Linked DNA regions of Homo sapiens. The protein of the gene in region 2 interacts with the protein of the main gene of each other region in a pairwise test. Each region holds a gene or a part of one and is shown on either strand. Other genes may lie near its edges.

Region 1 (2,722 bases), on a different chromosome or scaffold from region 2:
GTCTCAATTTAAAAAGATCCCCATGGCCACAGGGCCCCTGCCTGGGGGCTTGTCACCTCCCCCACCTTCTTCCTGAGTCACTCCTGCAGCCTTGCTCCCTAACCTGCCCCACAGCCTTGCCTGGATTTCTATCTCCCTGGCTTGGTGCCAGTTCCTCCAAGTCGATGGCACCTCCCTCCCTCTCAACCACTTGAGCAAACTCCAAGACATCTTCTACCCCAACACCAGCAATTGTGCCAAGGGCCATTAGGCTCTCAGCATGACTATTTTTAGAGACCCTGTGTCTGTCACTGAAACCTTTTTTGTGGGAAACTATTCCTCCCATCTGCAACAGCTGCCCCTGCTGACTGCCCTTCTCTCCTCCCTCTCATCCCAGAGAAACAAGTCAGCTGGGAGCTTCTGCCCCCACTGCCTAGGGACCAACAGGGGCAGGAGGCAGTCACTGACCCCGAGACGTTTGCATCCTGCACAGCTAGAGATCCTTTATTAAAAGCACACTGTTGGTTTCTGCTCAGTTCTTTATTGATTGGTGTGCCGTTTTCTCTGGAAGCCTCTTAAGAACACAGTGGCGCAGGCTGGGTGGAGCCGTCCCCCCATGAAGTACAGGCAGACAAGTCCCCGCCCCAGCTGTGTGGCCTCAAGCCAGCCTTCCGCTCCTTGAAGCTGGTCTCCACACACTGCTGGTTCCGTCACCCCCTCCCAGGGAAGCAGGTCTGAGCAGCTTGTCCTGGCTGTGTCCATGTCAGAGCAACGGCCCAAGTCTGGGTCTGGGGGGGAAGGTGTCATGGAGCCCCCTACGATTCCCAGTCGTCCTCGTCCTCCTCTGCCTGTGGCTGCTGCGGTGGCGGCAAAGGAGGGATGGAGTCTGACACGCGGACAAAGGCTCCTCCGGGCCCCTCACCAGCCCCAGGTCCTTTCCCAGAGATGCCTGGAGGGAAAAGGCTGAGTGAGGGTGGTTGGTGGGAAACCCTGGTTCCCCCAGCCCCCGGAGACTTAAATACAGGAAGAAAAAGGCAGGACAGAATTACAATGTGCCGGCCCAGGGTGGGCAGCGGCCCTGCCTCCTACCCTTGCGCCTCATGACCAGCTTGTTGAAGAGATCCGACATCAAGTGCCCACCTTGGCTCGTGGCTCTCACTGCAACGGGAAAGCCACAGACTGGGGTGAAGAGTTCAGTCACATGCGACCGGTGGCTCCCTGTCCCCACCCCCATGACACTCCCCAGCCCTCCAAGGCCACTGTGTTTCCTAGTTAGCTCAGAGCCTCAGTCGATGCCTGACCCAGCACCGGGCACTGATGAGAAAGTGGCTGTTTGAGGAGCCACCTCCCAGCCACCTCGGGGACAGGGCCAGGGTGTGCAGCACCACTGTACGATGGGGAAACTGGCCCAGAGAGGTGAGGCAGCTTGCCTGGGGTCACAGAGCAAGGCAAAAGCAGCGCTGGGTACAAGCTCAAAACCATAGTGCCCAGGGCACTGCCGCTGCAGGCGCAGGCATCGCATCACACCAGTGTCTGCGTTCACAGCAGGCATCATCAGTAGCCTCCAGAGGCCTCAGGTCCAGTCTCTAAAAATATCTCAGGAGGCTGCAGTGGCTGACCATTGCCTTGGACCGCTCTTGGCAGTCGAAGAAGATTCTCCTGTCACAGTTTGAGCTGGGTGAGCTTAGAGAGGAAAGCTCCACTATGGCTCCCAAACCAGGAAGGAGCCATAGCCCAGGCAGGAGGGCTGAGGACCTCTGGTGGCGGCCCAGGGCTTCCAGCATGTGCCCTAGGGGAAGCAGGGGCCAGCTGGCAGGAGCAGGGGGTGGGCAGAAAGCACCCGGTGGACTCAGGGCTGGAGGGGAGGAGGCGATCTTGCCCAAGGCCCTCCAACCGCAGGCTCCAGGGCCCGCTCACCTTGCTCCTGCTCCTTCTGCTGCTGCTTCTCCAGCTTTCGCTCCTTCATGCTGCGCAGCTTGGCCTTGCCGATGCCCCCAGCTTGGCGGATGGACTCTAGCAGAGTGGCCCAGCCACCGGAGGGGTCGACCACTTCCCTGGGAGCTCCCTGGACTGGAGCCGGGAGGTGGGGAACAGGGCAAGGAGGAAAGGCTGCTCAGGCAGGGCTGGGGAAGCTTACTGTGTCCAAGAGCCTGCTGGGAGGGAAGTCACCTCCCCTCAAACGAGGAGCCCCGCGCTGGGGAGGCCGGACCTTTGGAGACTGTGTGGGGCCCGGGCACTGACTTCGGCAACCACCTGAGCGCGGGCATCCTGTGTGCAGATACTCCCTGCTTCCTCTCTAGCCCTCACCCTGCAGAGCTGGACCCCTGAGCTAGCCATGCTCTGACAGTCTCAGTTGCACACATGAGCCAGCAGAGGGGTTTTGTGCCACTTCTGGATGCTAGGGTTACACTGGGAGATACAGCAGTGAAGCTGAAATGAAAAATGTGTTGCTGTAGTTTGTTATTAGACCCCTTCTTTCCATTGGTTTAATTAGGAATGAGGAACCCAGAGCCTCACTTGTTCAGGCTCCCTCTGCCCTAGAAGTGAGAAGTCCAGAGCTCTACAGTTTGAAAGCCACTATTTTATGAACCAAGTAGAACAAGATATTTGAAATGGAAACTATTCAAAAAATTGAGAATTTCTGACCACTTAACAAACCCACAGAAAATCCACCCGAGTGCACTGAGCACGCCAGAAATCAGGTGGCCTCAAAGAGCTGCTCCCACCTGAAGGAGATGCGCTG
Region 2 (3,933 bases):
TGTTCCTGGGTCAGACTTTGACATAGGCTGCTCTGGGGCCTATTTCCATCCCTGGGCTTCCAGCAGCCCGCACTTTCCCGGAGCACCTTGATGGGGGAAAAGCTTTCACGATGTCAGCTGGAGTGAGAATCAACACCAAGGGAAGAAACCCTCTGTCCCCAAGGCCCTCTTAGTTCCCCCACATGAGAGAAGACAGGGAGGAGACAGATGTCTGCATGGGCCAGCCTTCACCACTAAGGACGGTAAGGGTACACAGGGTACAACAGCGTCGGGGAGCAGGACCTCTCCCTCCCCACGGTGCTCACAGAATAATGAACAACCGGATCCGCACCATGGACTGAGAAGACGAACTGCCTTTGTTTCAGAGGAAGAGTTCTCCAGCTGCTCTGTGGATCACAGAGCCCACATGGGAGAGGCAGAGGCAGGGAGGCCAGGGAGGTGACCAGGGAGCTCAGTGCCCTAAGGAGAAGGACATGGAGCGAATACTCAGAGGCCCGGAGTGAAACACAGTGCACTTTATTGGCGACAGACCGGAGGGGCGGAGGGGGCTGTGTGCTATATACATCAGAGCTGTAGTGAGCATCCCACCCAGGGAGGGGACTCCGGGGCAGCAGAAGGTGGCGGCCTAGGCCACACCTGGACAATCACAGGCACAGGCTGGAGCCGGAGAGAAGAGCCTGAAATTCTCGTGACTGGGCTTGGCCGGGGATCTGGAAGGAGGAGCAAGAGGCCACAAGCCTTCCAGCGCAGAGCCGCGTTCTTGGGGAGCATGGGGTGGCGCTGGGGGTGTTGCCAATATGGGGGCGTGGGGAGCGGAGGGGAGGCGCTGGAGTGGCTGCGATGCTGATGCGTGCTCTTTATCTGGAGTAGCGCTGGGAGGACTGGGAGGACTGGGAGAACTTGATGCTGCCGCCCCGGTTGCTGGCCGAGCTGAAGCCCCCGCCACTGACTCCATAGCGGGCGCCAGAGATGGAGCCAAAGCCGCTGCCACCGCTGAAACCGCTGCTGCCGCCGCCAAATCCACCGCCGATTCCACCGCCGCCTCCCCGGCCAAAGCCACTGCCTGAGCCGCCGCCCGCACTGAAGCCACCTCCTAAACCACCGCCCATGCCTCCGCCGTAACCTCCTCCATAGCCACCTGCGGAGGCGGAAGTCGTGCTGCTGCTGACCACGGCTGTGGGGGAGAGGACAGGACAGCGATCAGCGACGGCGCCCAGGCCAGCTGCTATGTTATTGTCAATGATCCACCGGGCCCACGACTATCCAGAGCTGATCAAGGCAGCTTTGCACAGGATGTTCACCACGAGCCGTTCCAAGGCCACTAGCTACTCACTCCCCTGCCGTTAAGCCATTATGAATTAGCCAGTGGTTCCTCCCACAGTACAGTCTTGATGACCCCCTTGGAGGGGATCTAGCGTCTGAATTTATCCTCCTATCAAGAGGCCCCCTGTTGGATATTCCACATTGGCCGTCGAAGCCTATTAAAAGTGCCCTGAACCCAGAACAATTACAAAAGCCAATCACTTCCCTCTCCTCTCCCAGAAAACCCCTCCAACTTCCGTAAAAATATGTTTAAATTAGTTGCTACTACCCTGGATTAGTGCAGATATTTCAGAATTAACTCTCATTTTCTTAGCTACTTTCGGTACTTACAGATGCTGACAGCACTCGGACACTCTCCAGACATCCTGTTTGAGAAAGCAAGAGAAAGTGGGCCCCGTCACAAAGCACATCACCAACAAGTCCACGGACCAAGGGCATGAATAGCAACCAGAGCTGAACAGAGAAGCCTGGCAAATCAGGTAAGCTTTCTCCACCCCTCTTTGGGCTGTAGCAAGGAGAGCCTGTGGGCACTGGTTGCATACGTGCCCTGGGAGGGAGTGGGCTGGTAGAGGCAAATGCTTCACCACAAGGCCTCTCTTTATACAGCAGGGCTCCATCCCCAGTTACTTGGTCACTTATCTGGCCCTTGGCCTATGACTTGAGCCAGGGGGTGTGGGAAGACGGGACTGGAGGCTCACCTGTACTCCTCGCCCTCCAGCAGCTTGCGGTAGGTGGCGATCTCCACGTCCAGGGCCAGCTTGACATTCATCAGCTCCTGGTAGTCACGTAGCAGCCGCGCCAGGTCATCCTTCGCCTGCTGTAGAGCAGCCTGCAGCTCTTGGAGCTTGGCATTGGCATCCTTGAGGGCCATCTCTCCATGCTGCTCGGCCTCGGCAATGGCCGTCTGCAGGTTGGCATTCTGGGGCAAGGGAGGTAGGAGGAATGAGCTCAGTAAGAGGGCCCCAGGCCCTTCCTGACATGCAATGGATTATCCCATCTTAAAGTCAGGGAACATTCCTCCTCCCCTAGTGCCTCCATCTTGTCTCCATTTGTGGAGATACTGCCCTGTGGGTCAGCCAGCCTGAGATGACCTCCAGACGTCTATTCCAGGGGAGGAGTCCTGAGATCCTAGCCCCTGCCCCTCAGCAATCATCCCAGGTGCCAGCATCCATGACCATCCCACCTGCTTCTTGACACCCTCGATCTCTGCCCGCAGCCTCTGGATCATTCTGTTGAGCTCTATGATCTCGCTCTTGGTATTTCTTAGGTCATCCCCATGCCTGCCAGCCGTGGTCTGCAGCTCCCCCAACTGCAGAACAGAAGGGAAGATGGGGTATTCCTGCAGCTTTGCTTGACTTGTTTCTACACCTCCAACATCACCCACCAAACCTTCAGAAGCTCAGTAAGGCATTTGCTAAAATGATACTGCATTGTGTTTCAGCAGGGAAACCCCCAAGGCAGCAGGAAAGAGAACATCTGGGTTGTTGTGGTAGAAGATTTTCCTACCCTGTAGTTCCTGAGCAAGTTGGAGTCAGTCCCACATAGCAGGCAACCATCTCCCCCAGGGGCAAGACTTTCTGCAACTGAACCACCATTAGAAGGATGACTTCAGAGGGTAAAACCAAAAGGCATTCACCCAGTGACCACTGGGAACTCACTACCCAGCTGTCCAATAGGCCATGGCCTCTCTGAAACCTCCAGTGGATCCCGTAAGAGGTGACTAGCACCCACCTTGGTCTGGTACAGGGCCTCAGCTTCGGCCTTGCTTCTCTGAGCGATATCCTCATACTGTGCACGAACTTCAGCAATGATGCTGTCCAGGTCCAGGGAGCGATTATTGTCCATGGACAGCACCACAGATGTGTCACTGATGTGGCTCTGCATCTGAGATAGCTCCTGTCAACACAGAGGGAGCTTGTTCACTTTTGGGGTCCCTGTAACAAGCACACAGGGCCCTGAAAGACTCTTGATCAACAGTCTCATTCACTGATTCCTTGCTCCACATGTGTATCAGCCACACCCTGTCCGCAGCCACTCAGAGAACCCCATGTCTGCAGCTTATCCTGTGGAATCCCTTCCAAGGGTCCTCATCTCCAGGCTCATTCCAGATGTCTTCTGGGGCCTATATACCAAAATGCACCAGCCTCAAATCTGGAAACACCTCACTCTCCCTCTGTCCCTTCTTAGTAGGTAACATCCTTACAGCGTCGTAGAGGGTCCTTAAGAAGTCGATCTCATCTATCAAGGCATCCACTTTGGCCTGAAGCTCCACCTTGTTCATATAGGCACTGTCCACATCCTGAGAAAAGAGGAAGATAAAGGCCTTATTCTCCCAATGAACAAACAGCAAACCACAACTGCAGCAAGAAAGAGCAGAGGGGACTGGTGCAGTGATGGTCCTTGTCTAAGACCAGTCTCCACTTGAACGGGCAATTTGTATCTCATTAGGATGGTCTAAGTTTAATCCTACTAAAAAACTAAAGACTGATGAACTAACTCTTTTAGGGATCTTCCAGACTAAGGTGCACCTGACTTCTGTTTATTGCTCCAAAGGCCTGAACTTGGCAGCTCTGTGGCAGTGGAGTGAGGAGATTCCCCCAACCCAGCCAG

The links.
Region 1: the proteins of KRT3 (region 2) and WASHC1 interact in a two-hybrid assay, tested with the Homo sapiens proteins (one large-scale study listed by BioGRID).

Annotation. Positions count from the first base shown.
Region 1 is NC_000009.12:14,013-16,734, forward strand, and holds the end of WASHC1 (WASH complex subunit 1), read right to left. Parts: coding exon 2,706-2,722; intron 2,050-2,705; coding exon 1,897-2,049; intron 1,138-1,896; coding exon 1,069-1,137; intron 929-1,068; coding exon 795-928; 3' UTR 501-794; downstream 1-500. UniProt on the Homo sapiens protein: Acts as a component of the WASH core complex that functions as a nucleation-promoting factor (NPF) at the surface of endosomes, where it recruits and activates the Arp2/3 complex to induce actin polymerization, playing a key role in the fission of tubules that serve as transport intermediates during endosome sorting.
Region 2 is NC_000012.12:52,789,185-52,793,117, forward strand, and holds the end of KRT3 (keratin, type II cytoskeletal 3), read right to left. Parts: intron 3,623-3,933; coding exon 3,527-3,622; intron 3,220-3,526; coding exon 3,055-3,219; intron 2,633-3,054; coding exon 2,507-2,632; intron 2,243-2,506; coding exon 2,022-2,242; intron 1,689-2,021; coding exon 1,654-1,688; intron 1,175-1,653; coding exon 858-1,174; 3' UTR 501-857; downstream 1-500.